Homo sapiens: one gene and its partners. The protein of the gene in region 4 purifies or fractionates together with the protein of the main gene of each other region. This does not show direct contact. Each region holds a gene or a part of one and is shown on either strand. Other genes may lie near its edges.

The links. The genes of interacting proteins can lie anywhere in the genome.
Region 1: the proteins of TRPC4AP (region 4) and PRRC2C purify together in Homo sapiens (affinity purification with mass spectrometry; one large-scale study listed by BioGRID and IntAct). This does not show direct contact.
Region 2: the proteins of TRPC4AP (region 4) and SCAF11 purify together in Homo sapiens (affinity purification with mass spectrometry; 2 studies listed by BioGRID and IntAct, with this or other methods). This does not show direct contact.
Region 3: the proteins of TRPC4AP (region 4) and CCDC6 purify together in Homo sapiens (affinity purification with mass spectrometry; 2 studies listed by BioGRID and IntAct, with this or other methods). This does not show direct contact.

The regions. Positions count from the first base shown.
Region 1 is NC_000001.11:171,530,312-171,535,128, reverse strand, and holds part of PRRC2C (protein PRRC2C), read right to left. Parts: intron 2,787-4,817; coding exon 2,168-2,786; intron 1-2,167. UniProt on the Homo sapiens protein: Required for efficient formation of stress granules.
Region 2 is NC_000012.12:45,979,476-45,984,292, forward strand, and holds part of SCAF11 (protein SCAF11), read right to left. Parts: intron 1-4,817. UniProt on the Homo sapiens protein: Plays a role in pre-mRNA alternative splicing by regulating spliceosome assembly.
Region 3 is NC_000010.11:59,895,458-59,900,274, forward strand, and holds part of CCDC6 (coiled-coil domain-containing protein 6), read right to left. Parts: intron 1-4,817.
Region 4 is NC_000020.11:35,084,475-35,090,102, forward strand, and holds part of TRPC4AP (short transient receptor potential channel 4-associated protein), read right to left. Parts: intron 1-5,628. UniProt on the Homo sapiens protein: Substrate-recognition component of a DCX (DDB1-CUL4-X-box) E3 ubiquitin-protein ligase complex required for cell cycle control.

The sequences.
Region 1 (4,817 bases), on a different chromosome or scaffold from region 4:
TTTTTATTTGTTTCAATAAACATCAATGTAATTGTCAGTATTTACTGGTAGTTCATTAAAATCTACATGAAAACACAAATGGCCTATAAATACTTAAAAAGAGAGCATGTTGGTTTATTTAGTTATTTATTGGGTAAAGGGACTATTATCTGTAAGGAAAACTAATGAGTTTAAGTCTGAAGACAACAGAGTGATCACTAGTTATCTTCAAACATAATTCATTCTAGAATGTCATTTGTCACAATTACAAATCCACGCTTGTTACAAATTCTTTTCTCAAATGACTAGTAATGAATTTAAAATGGAAGTTTATCTCCCAATGTAAAAGCATGCTGTTAAGAATCACAAATAACATTTTTATTGCTTGGATTACATTCAATATTAAGAATGTTGTAAAAGAGTGAGCAGGTCATGGTGGTGCATGACTGTAATAACAGTAACTCAGGAGGCTGAGGTGAGAGGATCACTTTAGCCTGGGAGTTTGAGACCAGCCTGGGCAACACAGCCAAAAAAAAAAGAATGGAAAATAATATACTGGAGGAAAAAGAGCCACATAGGCACTGACTTTAAAATCACGTGTGTCTTGAGAACATCTCAGAGAGCATTAAAACAAACAAAAAAATTGTATGTGTCTAGTATCAGAATTGAGGGGGGAAAAAAAAATCACATGGGTACATCTCACTGATAAACAAGCTAAAATTAAATTGCCATGAGAGAGAATATATAAAATGTGAATGAAAATAAAAGCACAAATAAAACTTATTAAACTATGATAATGTTTTCCTTTCTCTTGTGAACACTTTATTTCACTATTTTGGTGTTATGAGCAATCTTCATAAGTACTTATGTAATATAAGCCCACTATTCAATAGCAAAGTCTCTCTAGATTGATTAATATGAAAAAAATCTGAAATCTTAGAGTCTTAACAAATGGTCCATACAGGCCTTATTTCATTAAAAAAATTAAAGATAAAATACTCATACTCCTTTATAGTTAAATTAAGAGCCAAGTTTGAAGGTAACCCTGCATATAAATAAAAACTTTATTTTTAAAAACACATTCTTATTATTTTAAGCAGCAGTGCCTTGTAGAAAAGAGCATGAGACGTCAGGTTAGAAAACTTACAATATTTCCACATCAGAAAATACACTGAAATAAAACTGCATTTCTATTTTAATTCAAGTCGTTCATTAAAACTAAACTTTAGGCTGGGCGCGGTGGCTCACGTCTACAATCCCAGTACTTTGGGAGGCCGAGGCAGGCAGATCACGAGGTCAAGAGATTGAGGCTATGCTAGCCAACATAGTGAAACCCCGTCTCTACTAAAAATACAAAAATTAGCTGGGTGCGGTGGCACGCGCCTGTAGCCCCAGCTACTTGGGAGGCTGGGGCAGGAGAATCACTTGAACCTGGGAGGTGGAGTTTGCAGTGAGCTGAGATTCCGCCACTGCACTCCAGCCTGGAGACAGAGAGAGACTCTGTCTCAAAAACAACAACAACCACCACCACCACAACAACAACAAACAAAAAACGAAAACCCTGAACTTTAACTTTGCCAAGGCTTTATACTATATTTGAATGCCATTAATCAGTCTACAAGCCAACTCGGAGAAGAACAAAAAAGTTGATTAGATCTAGAAAAAGAATTTTATTTTAAAGTATAATTACTCCAGGAAATTACAGTTTAATAGCATATCAACTACACCATGGAAGCTTGCATGTTTAAACTGATTAAACAGCAAACCTGAAATTATGAACTAGGTGCAGTCATTTAATTATGATAATCCAACATACTCATTAAGCTCTATGCCAGTTCAGTTTTAGAGGTATTAATGCATGTGAACAAATGAGATTTTGTTTAGTTAAATGTCTTGGAGTCAGAAAAAAGCAGGGGGAGAATCAGTATATGTGACTATGAAGCCAATACAATTCTGCAGATAAAACAGAAATGAAGCTCATCTAATAACTGAGAAACACTTCAGAGACGTCTGTTCATATACAGAATTAGAAAACACGGCTCTAGCCCATATTTTGTACTGCAAATGCTATCATAAAACAATCACTTTTATATTGATTACATATATTTAAAATATACAAACCCCAAACTGTAACCAACATAAAGCTCTTTGTAAAGTTTTTAAAAGAGAATGAAGAATACTATCAAACCTTTATTACAGCTGTTTTCACTTTCTTGTTTTTCTACCATGGGCTCTAAATTAGGTTCTCTGGGTTCAATTTTCTCCTCTAATTTTTCCCTTTCCTTCTCCAGCTCACATTCCTTTTCTTGTTCTTTCATCTTTTGTAGTTCTTTTTCCTTTTCTTTCTGCCGTTCTAGTTCTTTTTCTTTTTCTTGCTTTCTTTCTTTCTCCATTTCTCTTTGTTTTTCCTGCTCCTTCTCCAGCTCTTTCTCCTTTTCCTGCTGTCTCTCTCTGTCTTTTTCCCTCTCCTTCTCTCGCTCCTGTTCTTGTTCTTTTTCAAGTTCTTTCTCACGCTCCCGTTCTTTTTCTCGCTCCCTTTCCCTAATTTCCTCTGGAGATGGTTGTTTTTCCAGGATGCCAAGCTTCTCATCCAATCGTTTCAGTTTCTCCGCACAAGCTGCCTTCCTTTGTTCTTCCATTCTTCGCTCTTCCTCTTCACGCCGTTTACGAGCACGTTCTACTGCTGCAGAAATTTCTGATTGTTGTCTTCGTCTTTGCTTCCATATTTCATCTTCATCAGCTACTTGCTGCTTGGAGGGAAAGGGGCCTGGTCTTCCAGGTACTGCCTGTCGATCTGGAGGTGGATGCTGAAACATTAAGGTATCAGATGAGTTATGACAACTCTATTTCTGACTAACACTGGGTATCAGGCATGGAGAAGGAAAAACCCCACAAAAATATCAGAAATTTCTCTGATGAACATACACATTAAAATGAAAACACATAAGATGGGAAATATATTACATCTAGATAATTCACCAAACTAAGACCAGAATAATTAATCCAGCGGTCCAATGTTTACTGAGTATGTACCTATTATTGTGCCAGACGTTGTTGCTCATTCAGTATTTGCTGAATAAAACTAGAAGCACAACAGTGAATCTCAAAATCTAAATTTAGAGACAAAGGAAATTTAGCATGGATACTTTAGAAGCAGCTGCCAGAGTTGGAATGTCTAAGGGAGAGAAATGAAGGTATTAAATATCCAAAATGATGGCATGTGAGCCCTGAGAAAATTAAGGTACAGCTACAGGTAAAAAGCACAGAGCCAAAGAAGCAAAGTGAAAAAGACAGAGTCAGTGCTGTAATGATACCCCAAAGGAGAAGAAATTCCTACAAATTAGTCTGGGTGAAGAAAAGTTCTATCTTTAGACTGAAAGATCCAGAAAAGCGTATCTAGAACCCGGAGTGGAGAATCGGAGGATCATCTGAAACATCCAAGTTTCAATGACTAAATTTTCATTAATGTGTTATAAAACAATGACAGGTTTTAAAATCACTGCTTGCAACTATGCAAAAACAATAAAAGTAATTAAAAAAATGTTTTTAACATATTGATTTTAAAAGCTACTAGGGTGAAGAAATCTTAAGAGCCATATGTAACCCAGCTGGAATGCTTATAAAAAGATTAAACAATGACACAACGAAAACACTTGACTATCTTTTTAAATGAATGCAGACTACCATTTACTAATAGTGCCATCATATGCAAATTACTTCATCTCTCTTGTGCTGAGTTTCTTCATCCACAGCTCAGAGATAAGCTGAAAAACCAAATATATTAGTGCCTAATTTACACAACTCACTTCATAAAAGTAAAATTTACATAAAATGTGCTGTGCTGCACATATTTTAAGTGTATAGTTTGATGAGTTTGGACAAATGATACACCTGTGTAACCACTGCTCCAACGCAGACACAACATTTCCATCACTCCTCTGCCTCCCCCTGTGGCCCCAAGCACCCCAACCCTAACCTTGTATAGTTCTGTTTGTCCTAGAATTTTATATACATGTATAAAATTATATTCTCTTTTGTGCTAGCTTCTTTTGCTAAGTATAATGGCATTGAGGTTATTTTATGTATAAGTAGTTTGCTCCATTTTACTGCTGGATAGTATTCCATTGTGGGCACGTTGTTTCATGTATGATAGACACGTGGGTTGCTTCCAGTTTTTAAACTATGAATAAAACAGCTATGAACATTCATGCGTAAGTCTTTGTGTAAATGTATGTTTTCCTGGCTGTTGGATAAACAGCTACAAGTGAAAATCCTGTGTCATATGGTAAATAGATATTTCATTTACAAGAAACTGCCAAACTGTTTTCCAAAGTGGTTATAAGGTTTTCCAATGTATAAGGGTGCCAGCTGCTCTATACATCCTTGCCAACACATGGTGTCATCAGTCTTTAATTCTGGCAGTGCAGTAAAATCTCAGTGGTTTTAACTTGTATTTCCCTAATAACTAAAGACACTGAATATCTTTTCATGTGCATACTGGCCATTCTTACATTTTCTTTTGAGAAACAAATGTTCAAGTCTTTTTGTTTAACTACGTATTATTGAGTTGTAAGATATTAAAAAAAAAATAAAAATACGGCCCAGGCTAGACACGGTGGCTCACATCTGGAATTCCAGCACTTTAGGAGGCCAAGGCAGGAGGACTGCTTGAGCTCAGGAATTCAAGACTAGCCTGGGCAACATGGCGAAACCCCATCTCTACAAAAAATACAAAAAAATTAGCCGGGCATAGAGGCACATGCCTGTGGTCCCAGCTACTTGGTAGGCTGAGGCAGGAGGATCGCTTGAGCCCAGGAGGTTTAGGCTGCAATGAGCTG
Region 2 (4,817 bases), on a different chromosome or scaffold from region 4:
ACTTTACAGAGTTTCAATTCCAGAAATTAGTTTATTTTGCACAAATGCTGAAAGTTACTCTTTCGTTGGTTTCTTGAGAACTGATCACTTTCTTCATACTAATCCCTTACAAATTGGTACAAGTAGTTATTATAAAACCAAGACAGAAAAAAGCAATTATCTTGCACAGTGTAAACAGGACATCTACTCTTTTCTCTAGCTATGCCTATTATCTGAATTTCTTAAACACAAACTCATCCTTCTAGGTATCTCAGAGATAAGTACAATTATGTTACATAAATGTATATGTATCAATGTGCCCTCATATGAATATTTTACACATAATTTAAAGAAGCATTTCACAATCCTACTCCTATGAAATACAACTCTAACCCAGATACCGATTGTATTACATACTATGCAAACTTAAAATTAAAAAAAAAAAAATTCTGCCACATTAGCATAAGGCATGAATAGATATTGGGATTCTTTCCTAAATGTAATCATATCACAAATGCTACAAATGCCCATAACCTAGATTTTTGTGTAAGCGTTTCATATTATTTTTGGCTACTACTTTCTAACAGGTCACGAATGATCTCATTTAACTTTTATAGAACCTGGTGAAAGAGGCATCTCAATTTTACATACAATGAAAATAAGTAACATGCCCAAGATCGAAAAGCCAGCATTAAGTAGTAGGACTGGAACCCATTAGCAATTTACCAACAAATAACACAAATATTAATCCAAGTCACCAGAAATCATGAGTATTCAAACAACAAGAAGTGGTAACATTCTTAATGATTCAAATGACTGCAAAAATGTTAAGCTTTTAACCTGCCTTCTTTATCACTATATTACTAGGATCCAACAGCATGCCTTCAAAGGAATGCCCAATTATTTATGGATATGTTTAGCAACCATAGCACATGTTATTTGTCAGGCATGATTCTAAACACACTTAGTCCCTCTCTCTACATATATTAACAAACCACTATGATCTTGAGAGATTAACTTCATTTTACAGTGATACTGTCATTACCCCCATTTTATTGTGGAAACACCTAGCAAGTGATGGAGCTGGGACTGAAATTCAGATAATCAGGCTCCCTTATGCTCTTAACCATTGACACTAAACGGCCTAATACACAAAAGGATCTCTATAAGGGTCATAAGTTACCCAACAACTCACCTGAACATCATATCCTTACAGTATTTATGTAACTAATTAAGTAACATTTATCTGAGTCCAGTGGTAATAAATAGCAGCTAACTCTATGTTCCATTCTCTTAAATTAGCTCTATTTAGTGAGTGACTCTCATGCCCTTTTAGTGCAAAGAACCTGAGAGTAGAATAACTGGATTAAGACTGTCCTGCTCCACCAGGTTCCAAAATACCTGTGTTTGGGAGGAGTGTTCCTCCTCCCAAAATACACTAATAGGAAAAACTAAACTGATATTAGTAAGATACTAGTTATCAATGTCTTAGGACATAACCTAATATATCACATCATTTAGAATAGTTTGTTTTAGGGAAACAGGGCAGGTGATTTATAAATTAACAAAATAAAGAAATATTGTCAAAGAGTATATATAGTTGGTTTTTGGAAGAGACAACTCAGACCAAAATAATGCTGTTAGAGATTGAGTGATATTCGGATTATCACCTAAATGTAATCTTATTATAAATGCTACAAACTGCCAACTACCTTTTCAAGTGAAATTTCTAACTGGCCAGTCTTCTGCTATGTTCACCATGACTAACACAGGATATGATTTGTTCGACACCATAAAAGTATATCAGTAAGACATGTTAATGAGAAAGGAAACAGGGATGAAGAGTCAAAAACGATGAATGAACTCATCCCTAAAACAAACTATTCTAAATGATGTGATGATGTAGAGAACAGTCTTACAAATCCATGCCAAAGAAATAACCCTGATATTAATCCAAGTCCCTTAAAGTTGTATCAAAATAATCTCTAAACAAATAGCCCCTTACAGCTCTGAGATTCCTGTCTCCCAAAAAGATCCAAAAACCGAAACATCATTCTCCCATTTTCTGAGGAATAAATATAATCCGTCATCCTTGAATAAATACGTTTTTGTTTTTTATCTCATTTCCCCAAGTTATTCTAGTTACAGATTAACTCTAGACTGTTCACCTATCTCTAACAAAAATTTAAAAAATTAGCCGAGTGTGGTGGCATGCCTGTAGTACTAGGTACTCTGGAGGCTAAGGCAGGAGGATTACTTGAGCCCAGGAGGTTAAGGTTGCAGGGAACTATGGCCATCCCATAGCATTCCAGCCAGGGGACAGAGTGAGACCTTGTCTCTCCCCATACCTCCCAAAAAAGGAAGAAAATAGAGGAACAAACATTATTATATTAAATGTAAATAATGTAAATAATCGTGCACACCAATTAAAAGAGATTATCAAACTGGATTTTAAAGAAAGACTGAATTATATGCCTGTCTACAAGAAACTCCCTTTAAAAATAAAGATAGGTTAAACATATAGAACAAGATATGCCAAATAATGCAAACAATAATAAACGATGGTTGGAATGGCTATATTAATATGAACTATATTTTAAACCTTTTTAAAGAGTCTAAGTGGATTTGTTTACCCTCCATTCAGTTTTAATTATATCTAGTTCTGTGGCAGTTTTGAAACAATGAAGCTATTTCGTTTCATCCATCTCCCTCATATTACTCAAGCTGATGTCTTAAGTAACTGGACATGCACAACAGTTTCTAAAGAAATATGACCTATTACATTAAAACTGTCCTATCTGAAGGGTTTTCTATGATGAAGTTTTCAGGTGAGTGATAGCTTATAAATTTTTTGAGTCATTAATATTTATTCCCCATTATAACAGCTTACAGAATCATTCTTCTTGACAAGCCATCTAGGCATACAAAATAGTGCTATACGTATATTTACATTAAAAAATCACCTATCGGGGCCGGGTACAGTGGCTCATGACTGTAATCCCAGCAATTCAGGAGGCCAAGGCGGGCAGATCACTTGAGGTCAGGAGTTCGAGATCAGCCTGACCAACATGGTGAAACCGTTTCTACTAAAAATACAAAAATTAGCCGGGTGTAGTGGTACACGCCTGTAATCCTAGCTACTCAGGAGACTGAGGCAGGAGAATTGCTTGAACTTGGGAAGCAAAGGTTACAGTGAACCGAGATTGTACCACTGCACTCCAGCCTGGGTGACAGAATGAGACTGTGTCTCAAAACAAACCAAACAAAACCTATCATTTGTAGACTGTTTCATTGATCCCAGAGAATTTTTATAACAGTGTTGTTTTGGCCGCTGTCTTTCATGTTTGTACTTCTGTTTTGGTTTACTTTAAGCTGCTAAATAACTACTGTGGTCAGGGTACTGAGCCTGGTATTGGAATATAAAGACGGATTAAGATACTGTATCACTTCCCGGTACAAGGAGTAGACTTGGAGACATAGGATACAGAAGATGAACAAGATAGCATATGCCAAGTGCCAAATGTGAGAAATAGGCAAAGAGTTTCTAAGACATTTTTTTAAATGTACCAGTGGGGGAGTAACTAACGACTGAGGCAAGTAAAGAAAAATAATGATAATAAAGTGCAAAAAGTTAATGTTCTTAAGTCCAATTAGGACTTACGTTGTGTTTCCTTAGGTGGACTTCAAGTCTATCTCTCTCCCATTTATTTGTTTTGAAAGTGGTTTATAAGATGTTTAAATTGGGGATTTTGAGCTTAATGTAGTAGCAGAAAGGTGGCAGTGGTGGAGAGATGGAAAGTACGAGAAACTAGTTAGGAGAAAATGGAAAGAAGACTAGATATCAAAAAAGAAGGCCTGATTAGGACTAAGCTCCCCTAGGGCACAGACCTAATAGACACATAGATATCAACAAACCTGGAGTTCAGAACTATGGGTAGAGTGAATGCCTACAATATACTACGTAATGAACTACACATTCTGGCATGCCTTTCCACATTTAATCCTCAAAATACCAGAACACGATACATTTAAAAAATTAAAACACCGTCAATACTGAACAACAGAACACTGCATTAAAAAGGCTTAAAAATCACCCACTAAACAAAGCTAACTTAAGAGTATGAACAGAGACAGAGTTAGCTGCTATTACCACTGGACTTAGATAAATGTTATTAAAAAATTAGGTGAGGAAATTGAGATACTGATTAGATCACCTATAAAAGGTGACAATCAGTCATCTAGGACAACCAGAGTTCAAAACCAGGTCTGACTGACTCCTAAACCTAAAACACACACACACACACACACACACACACACACACACACACACAAAGACTGAACTAATTTTTACCTTACTGTCAAAATTACAATAAAAAGACAACCCTAAAAGTACATCTGAGAAGTCTAGGGTAAAAGAAAGGATAAAAAAGGAAGAAGTTTAGTCTTATCCCTAATAGAGATGTGAGTCTTAAGAGGGTTTAAATTTACTCAAGAGGGTTTAAAGATTGAGAACACTTTTAATTTTCACTAAAAGTGTTGGTATAATAATCTTTTACAAAAAGGAATAAGTATAAACTTTAAAAGAACACGTCTGTATGCTGCTATTCTGGCTGGAGGCATTGGAGCCCAAGTTAGTGAGCAAAATGCTCATGTTACGAATAGTGAGGGAACCCAGATTAAGATTCTTTTTACCTTAATAAAAAGAAAAAGGGATTACTTCTTTTTAGACTCCTTCAACTTGGAACAGTCCCCCAGTCTTGACTTTCATGACCTTGTTTGTACTCCTTAAAGCTTATAGATTAGTTCTGTTGCAAAATGTCTTCCAATTTGGGTTTGCC
Region 3 (4,817 bases), on a different chromosome or scaffold from region 4:
TAAATTTGTAGGCTTATGGCTATGGATAAACAGTAGTACTGATCGTATAGGACTGTGGTGAGGATTAAATGAGAGGATATACGCAAACCCCTTCCAATAGTGCCTAACCCATAGTAAGCACTGGATAAACATCCACTGTTATCACAGCAACACAAAAAGATTTGGAAGTGGGACAATGGTGGTGAATAAAAATTCTGTAAGCTTTCTTTTTCCTTCAAACCTTTTAAAACTCCGGTTTACCTTGCCTCAAAAGAGGTCTGGCTTTAGTCCTTGACGTTCTGGAGGCAATTTCTAACCCTTTCGAAGGTCATGCCTGATAAGAGTGTCTTTGTTTACCTGAGGGCGTTGGATCACACTGGAAAGCCTAACAGTGTGATTCAGCCTGAGCGCTTTAGGCCATGTGGTATCAGCACAGCCTACTCAGGGCCTGGAAACTGAGATCTGCCCTGTGGATAGGCGACCATGTCTATGTGATGAGCCCCAGTAAAAATTCTGCAGCCCAAGGCTTGGCCAAACTTCGCTGGTTGGCAATACTCCATGTGTATTGTCACACGTTGTTGCCAGGAAAGTAATGTTGTGCACACTCCACGGGGAGAGGATAACTAGAAGCTCCACAATGAAAAACGTTCCTGGACTCTGCCCTATATGCTTTTTCCCTTGACTGATTTTAACCTGCATCCTTTCCCTGTAATAAACTGTACCTGTGAGTATAAAAATAAGTAATTTAAAAAATAAAATTACAGTTTATTCCAAATGCTATCAAGGAAATTAAATGCATACATTTCATTAAAAATAAAAAATAAAAAGCAACCATGATCTGTGAAGTGTTGGGGGTAAGATATGGGGGGATGACCCTTCCCTCCTGGAGGACAAGCTCTTGCCATGGGTTATTCCCTCATCCAGCATCTCCACATCTGGGTGCTTACTGGCACCAAGCCCAGAGCTGGGCGTAGGGCTAGGGCACTGCACATTTGCTGAGTGACAGAAAAGAACCATATATGGGACAGCTAACAGGCAGTACAAACTTAAGTTAAAATAAGACATCAACACTTAAGGTCCAAATTTATAACTTCAAGACCAGGACAGTAAAAAGCAGCTAGCAGCTTTTGTAGACCAGAGTAAGTCTTTCTTTAAAAAAAAAAACAAACAAAAACAAGAACAAAAACAAACAAACAAAAAAAATTAAGTCACTAGGAATAGAGGTTTACCAGGGAGGAAAAAAAAATGGGTGTTATTGTTTAATGGGTACAGAGTTTCCTTTTGGGATGATGAAAAGTTCTGGATATGGATAATGGTGATGGTTGCAAAACACTGTGAATGTACTTAAAGCCACTGAATTGTACACTTACAAATGGTTAAAATGGTGAATTATATGTTGTGTATGTTTTTATCACAAAAAAAAATGCAAAAAAAGTCACTGGTACTCTTCTCTGGGTACCTAAGGTATTTCACAATATAAACCCCATGCATGCAAGGCTCAAAATGGCATAAAACAGTTAATATACTTTCCAAGGGACATAAACCCTTACCAGGTAGTGATTTGAACCTGAAGAAGTCTAACTCTACTTTATGGAGAATACACTTAAAACAGTACTCTTTGGTTAATAAAAACAATAAAATCACCTAGTCAATTTTTTCCTCAAAGATTAGTAGGGCTACTAAATGAAGTGAAGACACGATGTTTTGACTCAACGGATGTCTTTGTTTAGATAAACTCTGGTCTAGTGAAGAACTCCACCCCACAAAAAACATCTCTCAGTAGAATAAAAGTTATCATTTGAGTTGGTATATTAGGATAATTTTTTTTTTTTTTGAGATGGAGTTTCACTCCTGTTGCCCAGGCTGGAGTAAAATGGTGCAATCTCGGCTCACCGCAACCTCCACCTCCCGGGTTCAAGCGATTCTCCTGCCTCAGCCTCCCGAGTAGCTGGGATTACAGGCATGCACCACCATGCCCAGCTAATTTTTTGTATTTTTAGTAGAGAAGGGGTTTCTCCATGTTAGTCAGGCTGGTCTCAAACTCCCGACCTCAGGTGATCCGCCTGCCTCGGCCTCCCCAAAGTGCTGGGATTACAGGCGTGAGCCATCACACCTGGCCTATTAGGATAATTTTTAAAAAGTCAAGCTTGCATACAAGTAATTTCATGAGTTGAAAAGTTATCTATATGAAACTCCAGGTATAATTATTTTTCTCTCAGATCTGTCCCTTTTAGCCTCTCTAATTCAATCTCAACAAGCAGACAGCACAAAAGACTCAAACTGTTCACTTATAGAAGCAACAGGTGAAGTGTTTAACACAGGTAACTAGATTTCTAAGAATTTTCTTTAGGTCACCCATAATCCCTGCTGCTTTCATTCTTTTACTCTCGTCCTTCCTCCTATGGAAAACTTTTTGAATGATGACTTATGCCTGGCTGAACATCCCAACTCTGCTCTGCAGTACCAAGTGGCCTCATTTGATCCTCAGTGCCCTGAGATGCCCTGGTGGGTATTACCCAGATCACTTTGGACACACACCTGGCACCACAAGGCTGGATTGATCTGGAACAGATGCATGGAAGATTAGCCCATCAATCAGCACTGCTTTTGTAAAAAACTAGAATTCAAAATTTCCTATAAAATAGTACCTCTAATTTTACTGCAAGAAGTCTTTGCTTTCAGATAGTTTCGGATTAAAAACTTGAGAAATTCCGTCCATCCACCATTATTCCATGAAAGAAACAGGAATAGAGGGAAAAAAACCACCTAGATAATTTCCATGTACTGACAGATGCAGATTATGAAATTAAAATATCAATGACATTTCTTTTCAATCATCATCACATAAAAACAAAAATTAAAAACAAACCAAAAGCCTCCCAGTGCCACCTCAGCATAAATTGAGCAACAGCTCTCCCCATCTCTGCCTTACATAATAAACTACAAGCTAATTAAACTGTGAATGAATGTGATAACTTGTTACCCTTAAAGATATTCACAGAGATAGATGAACTTCATTTTGGAAGCTGGAAGGTAAAATTCCCCTCCCTGGGAACCCCTACAGGAGTCGGCCTAAGCTTCCCTTCCTGCATCCATGTGTGTGTTGGTTCCTTCTGCACTGCACAATCCCCAAGGCTGGAGAGAAAGGCTGTTTCCCTCTGCTCTGTATTCCCTACAGCACCAGGCCAGGGCCAGGCTGAATGAAAGTCAAGTGCAATCCTCGCTATGCTACCGGGAGAGCCCTAACATTCCTTTTGGATATTTGTATCCAGCACACAGTATTATAAGCACTTGACAGCTGAATCCTGCCTCTTTGAGGCTATATTTATTTTATTTATTACATGCCATTTTGTACCTTACTGAAGAAACAAAGGCGGGGGCAGAGAGGGGAGACCAGAAAAATCTCCCAGCAAAAAACAAATGAGTATTGTAATGAACTATAATCATTAAATTGCACTCCATATGTCTGATCCAGGAACCAATAAGTAAAGGGGAGGGTTAATTCTAAATGACCATCAATCATATTGTTAAGCCTTTTTTAAAAGAATACTTATCCCTAAAGAGAGAACCTACACAAAGTGACCTTTGCAATTTACTGGTATCAGGGTTGGAATAGACTTCACAGCTGTGCATTTCACAGCCATAAAAGATAAGAAAATTTGACAGCCTTGGAGAAGTAGGAAGAATCTGCAAGTTAACACCACCCCAAGATCCTCACAATTAAAAATATTTTCCAGAGGATTAGTTCCTCTGTCAAGAAAATTGCAACCATCACCAAGCAGGAACATATTGAACCTGTGAACATTTACTCTGCCAACTTTGACAATTCAATATACCTGAAAACAACCACAATGTGATTGAAAACAAAAAGCAACACCTACCCACTAAGGAAAAAAAGTATGCAGAGAGGACAGAAAAGATTACCATTATTCCTTACTCAGCCTGACTGCAGTTCAGTAGTTTGGATTAGCATTTTGAAGTGTAAACACAATTATTTCGGCAAGGCATGATTTAAGGAAAACACACACACACAAATACACTGTGGTGACACTTGTGTCTCTGCAAGACACAGCAGACGTAAGAATTCAACAATCCCCCTACCCTGTTTTCAGATGCTTCCCCCATCACTGCTACAGGTCACCAGTATTTATTTGCATTACTGCATCCCCCTGCAATGGGCCAGAGTTGTTTCCCAGTGGTGCATTTCAACATTAAAGAGTCATAGGAAACACCTGGAATGATCTGCCACCATCACCAAAACCAAGGCAGCAAATCTGAACACTTCCAATGGGGCTACTTTTTCCTCCAAGCCCTGCTCAGAAACACTTAGAAAGGAGAACCTGAAAATACTTTGTCCCCTTTCAGATAAAATGTTATCAGGAACACCCAGGTGTATGCTGCAAGGTAGCCCACATCACCCAAAGCTAGAAGGCAAGGGCACACTGATTGCAATGGTCCCCCAAAGTATACAATGCATCCATTCACATATCTGGTCTGTTTCATCAACTATGGTAAAGAAAGTGTTTGCTGTTGTGGCAGGGGAGTGGCTCTATGAAGACAAGGTCCCAGAGAGAGTGTTGGCACCTTCATCACAGAAAGAAACAAGTACATACATACCCGTGCCTCTGGAGCCAGCTCAACAAATTTCTGGGTGTTTCTCACATGCCAAGCACTGAGGAATGTGATGAACAAGGCAAATTCTGCCCCCAAAGAAATTTACACATGAACCGGGAAAGATCTCGATAGTCGAGTGTCAGTGACGTGGGGTGGGGGGGGTGGTGTCTATGGAACCACGGAAGTAGGTGCATACCCCAGTAGCAGGTGCATACCCCGGTGTG
Region 4 (5,628 bases):
TATGTGTATATATGTATATATCTATATATGTATATACGTATATATGTGTATATATGTATATATGTATATGTATATATGTTTATATGCATATATGTGTATATGTATATATGTTTATATGCATATATGTGTATATGTATATATGTTTATATGCATATATGTGTATATGTATGTATGTTTATATGCATATATGTGTATATGTATATATGTTTATATGCATATATGTGTATATGTATATATGTTTATATGCATATATGTGTATATGTATATATGTTTATATGCATATATATGTATATGTATATATATACAGGGTATATGTATATTTATCCTTCAATTTAAAAAATGGAAGAGGACTGTTTTTAACACTACAAAAAAATTATATAAAACAAATATAATTGTACAATATATGGCCCTGCTGTAAATAATAATGCTAACATCATAATGTAAATACTTAACAACAGCCAAAGCTGTGATATAACTACATTGGTAGACTAGTGGAGACGAGTAAGAAGGAATCGAATGTGTGAATTAAATCCTAGTCTTTCAAGAGCGAAGAAAATAGATAGTATCTAAAAGTGAAAAGAAACAGCTTTATAACCATGTTATTTAGAAATACTGGCTCTCCTGTTTCCTGGATCCTTCTCTTGCAAAAGAAATAGCTAAGTATGGACACTGAACAGCATTAGGAGTATGGAACTTAGAGGTGCAAAGCAGGCAGGGCACTGCTGTTTTTTTGTTACAAGCTCCATGATACGCAGAGATCTAATCACAGTCCAAATATTTGACTTCACAAGCAATTTCTTTACTATTTATACATTGTCTTACAAGGCATGTACTCTCATTTAAAAATAATAATTTGGGGCTGGGCACAGCGGCTTACACTCATATCCTAGCACTTGGGAGGCCAAGGTAGGCCCATTGCTTGATCCCAGGAGTTTAAGACCAGCCTGGGCAACATGGCAGAACCTTATCTCTACAAAAAAATACAAAAATGAGCTGCGTATGGTGGCATGCGCCTATAGTCCCAGATACTCGGGAGGCTGAGGTGGGAGGATTGCTTGAGCCCAGGAGGCGGAGGTTTCAGTAGTTTTTTTTCACCACTACACTCCAGCCTGGGCAACAGAGCAAGACCCTGTCTAAAAAAAAAAAAAAAAATCATTAGAATTTTGTTTTCCTTGTGAACAGCTCAGCACTGTGACAAAAGTGCCACCATTCAGTCATCTTCCCAGTTGAATTACTGGCAGGTATCACATGGGTTTTCTCTTGAAGTACTTGTGGTTTAACAGTTTACAGCAGTGATAATCTCTTACATCATACCCTCTAAACTGTCAACCTGTTTAGCAAATATGACATTTCTAGACATTTACAGTTTCCACTGATTTTATTGTTTTTAAAAATAACTAAAGGCTAAATTCCATGAAGATAACTGTGCATCTTATTTGTTTCTTTAATCCTAAATGTAAGACATCTAATGCCTCAAAATACCACACTAAATGCAAGGGTCTCGCGCAATCTCACTGCAACCTCCGTCTCCTGGGCTCAAGTGATCCTCCCACCTCAGCCCTGCCCCCTTCCCCCTCCCAGCCCCCCACACCACCACCACTGCCACCAAGTAGCTGGGATTACAGGCACGCACCACCACGCCCGGATAATTTTTTGTATTTTTAGTAAAGATGGAGTTTCACCCATCTTGCCCAGGTTGGTCTTGAACTCCTGAGCTTAAAGAATCCGTCTAGCTCGGCCTCCCAAAGTGCTAGAATTACAGGTGTGAGCCACCGCACCCAGCCTAAATAGATATCTTAAAGGATAATAAAGATAAAATACCTTGTTGGGTTATTCTGACAATACATGTTAACCACTGAATACTTTTGTGTCCTTTAATGGGGTATGATTCAGTAAAATTAGGAGCAAATTTAAGGGCTTGTGAATACGAAAACTTCCCATTGAAATGAATGGCATATGTGTGTGTGTGTGTGTGTGTGTGTGTGTGTGTGTGTGTGTGTGTATGTGTGTGTATATATATATGTGTATATATATGTGTGTGTGTGTATATATGTGTGTGTGTGTGTGTGTGTGTGTGTGTGTGTGTGTGTGTGTGTGTGTGTATATATATATGAATAAGACTTTATCCTAATCAGGAGTTTTTCAGTATCAAATTACCTTTGAAAAGCCAGGTAAGATTTGTTTGACTTAAATGCCTAGGTTTCATAAATACTAATGGTTAGAATGAGGCTAAAACAAGTAGTGCCTAATGAAATTTTTTTTAAAAGTTAGTGAATCTGGCTGGGCACGGCGACTCACATCTGTAATCCCAGCACTTTGGGAGGCTGAGGTGGGTGGATCAAGAGATCAAGAGTTTGAGACCAGCCTAGCCAGCATGGTGAAACCCTGTCTTTACTAAAAATACAAAAAGTAGCCGGGCATGGTGGCACATGCCTATAGTCCCAGCTACTCAGGAGGCTGAGGCAGGGGAATCGCTTGAACCCGGGAAGCGGAGGTTGCAGTGAGCCGAGACTGTGCACTGCACTCCAGCCTGGGCAACAGCACGAGACTCCATCTCACAAAAAAAAGAAGTCAGCCAGGCGCAGTGGCTCACACCTGTAATCCCAGCACCTTGGGAGGCCGAGGTGGGCGGATCATGAGGTCAGGAGATCGAGACCATCCTGGCTAACACGGTGAAACCCCGTCTCTACTAAAAATACAAAAAAAAAAAAAAAATTAGCCAGGCGTGGTGGCGGGCACCTGTAGTCCCAGCTACTCGGGAGGCTGAGGCAGGAGAATGGCATGAACCTGGGAGGCGGAGCTTGCAGTGAGCTGAGATTGCACCATTGCCCTCCAGCCTGGGCAACAGAGCGAGACTCCATCTCAAAAAAAAAAAAAAAGTCAGTGAATCTAAAGAAAAAATATAAAGTAAGGAACACTCAGGGGCATTTAGATATGCCAATAATCATAAAGGAAGCAACGACTGCCATGTGGGAAATATAACAGCATCCCACAACCCAGTCTGTCACCAGATTGCCAAACTGAAGGGCATCCAGGGATGGCGGGTCATGACCTGTAATGTGAGCTGCACTATCCTAGAGCCCAGCGTTTACTCAGTCTATCCTTTCCTTCAACTCGTACTGATCATTTGGGGCCTTGTACGCCCATGGTAAGGAATCCAGAATTGATTCTATCAACTGCAATGAGATGAGGCTGGAGAGTTTTAAGCAAAGGATTTATAAGATCTGATTTGCATTAAGCATCAAATGTGCTGATGAATATGAAAAGGCTCAGTAAACTCCAAAGTATCACCCCAGCATATTTTATTGCCTTGACAGAGGGCAGAACAAAACGAAGGGAAGAAAATAAAGCAAACTAAAATCCAAGTAGAATTGACCCATTACAAATTATGTGGCCAGTAGTCATGACTCAGGCTTCCCTTATGCCCCATTTAGGGAGATGGAGAAGATCAGGTCTGATGGAAAAGGGAGAGGATTTTGGCTTTCGACATACTAAGTTTGAGATGCCCATTAGACATCAAAGTGGAAATGCTAGAAGGCAATTGGATATACCTACCCATCCAGAGCTAAAAGGAGAAACACGAATGGAAACAGAAACTTAGGATCCGTCAGCGTATAGAGCAGTTATTAATAACAATACAAGCTAATCTTTATAGCAGTAAGCTATGTACTTATAGCTGAGAAAGTATGTTTCAGTCACTATTTTAAGTGCTTTATATGTACAACTCACTTGGTCCTCACCACAACCTTGGAAGGTCAGGTCCTATGATACTTACTTTACAAATAAATAAACTGAGGCATAAACAGATTAAATAACTTGCCTAAAGACACATAGTAAGTAAATACCAGAGCTAGGTTTCAAACCTAGGTAATCTGACTCTGGAACTCTTTAAAGCCATGAGATTGCTTGGCAAGTACAGACAGAAATTAGACTGAGGACACAGTATTTCAATTTAAGCAATTTCCTGAATATCAAATGGCTGGCAAGGTTTCAGGCTCTGCAGATACAATGAAAAATAAGACACAGTCTCTTCAGGAAGCCCAGTCTAATTAACTACTAGCTGAGAGCAACTATTTACTAAACAACTATTCCTATATGCCACACTGGCTACGCTTTTAAAACATATTATTTCACTTAATCCTCCTAACAACTTTATGGGATAGATGTTATCATCACCTCTTTAGAAATAAGGAAACTGAAGTTAAGAGAGGTTAAATAACTTAATCTTGGTCACCCTGCTAGGATTCAATTCAGGTCCACCTTACTTTAAAATCTGATTTTTTTTTCCAAGGAAATTCCATCACATGCTATACCACAGATGATCCTTGAGGACATTATGTTAAGTAAAATAAGCCAGTCACAAAAAGACAAATACTGTATTACTATACTGGGGTTATCTAAAGTAGTCAAACTCACAAAAACAGAAAGGAGAAGAATGGTTACCAAGGACTGGGAGGGAGAAATGGGAAGTTGTTCAATGGTAGTTTCAGATTTGCAAGATGAAAAAGTTCTGGAAATCTGTTTCACAACAATGGGAATATACTTCACATTACTTAACTATACACCTTTTTTTTTTAAGATACAGGGTTTCACCATGTTGCCCAGGCTGGTCTCAAACTCCTGGGCTCAAACAATCCGCTCACCTCAGCTTCCCAAAGTGTTGGGATTACAGGTGTAAGCCACCACACTGGGCCTGACCTATACACTTATAAATGGTTAAGATGGTAAATTTTATGTTTACATATATATATTTATATATGTATATAGTTTGAGGCAGGGTCTCATTCTGTTGCCCAGGCTGCAGTGTAATGGTGTGATCATGGCTCACTGCAGCCTTGACTTGCCAGGCTCAAGCGATCTTCCCACCTCGGGTTCCTGAGCAGCTGGGACTACAGGCATGCATTTCCACACCTGGTTAATGTTTTTTTTTTTTTTTTTTGTAGTAGAGCTGGGGCTCCACCACACTGCCCAGGCTTGACTCAAACTGGCTCAGGTGATCATCCCATCTTGGTCTCCCAAAGTGCTGGGATTACACACATGAGCCAATGTACCTGGCCTATATTATATATTTGTTTACTACAATGAAAAAATTTTGGCTAGGCGCAGTGGCTCACACCTGTAATCCCAGCACTTTGGGAGGACAAGGCAGGGGGATCATGACGTCAGGAGTTGGAGACCAGCCTGACCGACATGGTGAAACCCCATCTCTACTAAAAATACAAAAAGTAGCCAGGTGTGGTGGCACACGACTGTAATCCCAGCTACTCAGGAGGCTGAGGCAGAATTGCTTGAATCCGGGAGACGGAGGATGCAGTGAACCGAGATTGCGCCACTGCACTCCAGTCTGGGCAACAGAGCGAGACTCCGTCTAAAAAATAAAAAATAAAAAATGTTTAAATCTGGTCTTTTCCTACTATACCACATGCCATAACAGTATAAAAATATGGGTAATCTGGGCAACAGAGCAAAACCCTGTCTCTACCAAAGATACAAAAATTAATGGGGTGTGGTGGCACACGCCTGTAGTCCCAGCTACTAGGGAGGCTAAGGTGGGAGGATCACTTGAGCCCAGGAAGTTGAGCTTGCCACTGCACTCCAGCCTGGGTGACAGAGCAAGATTCTGTCTCA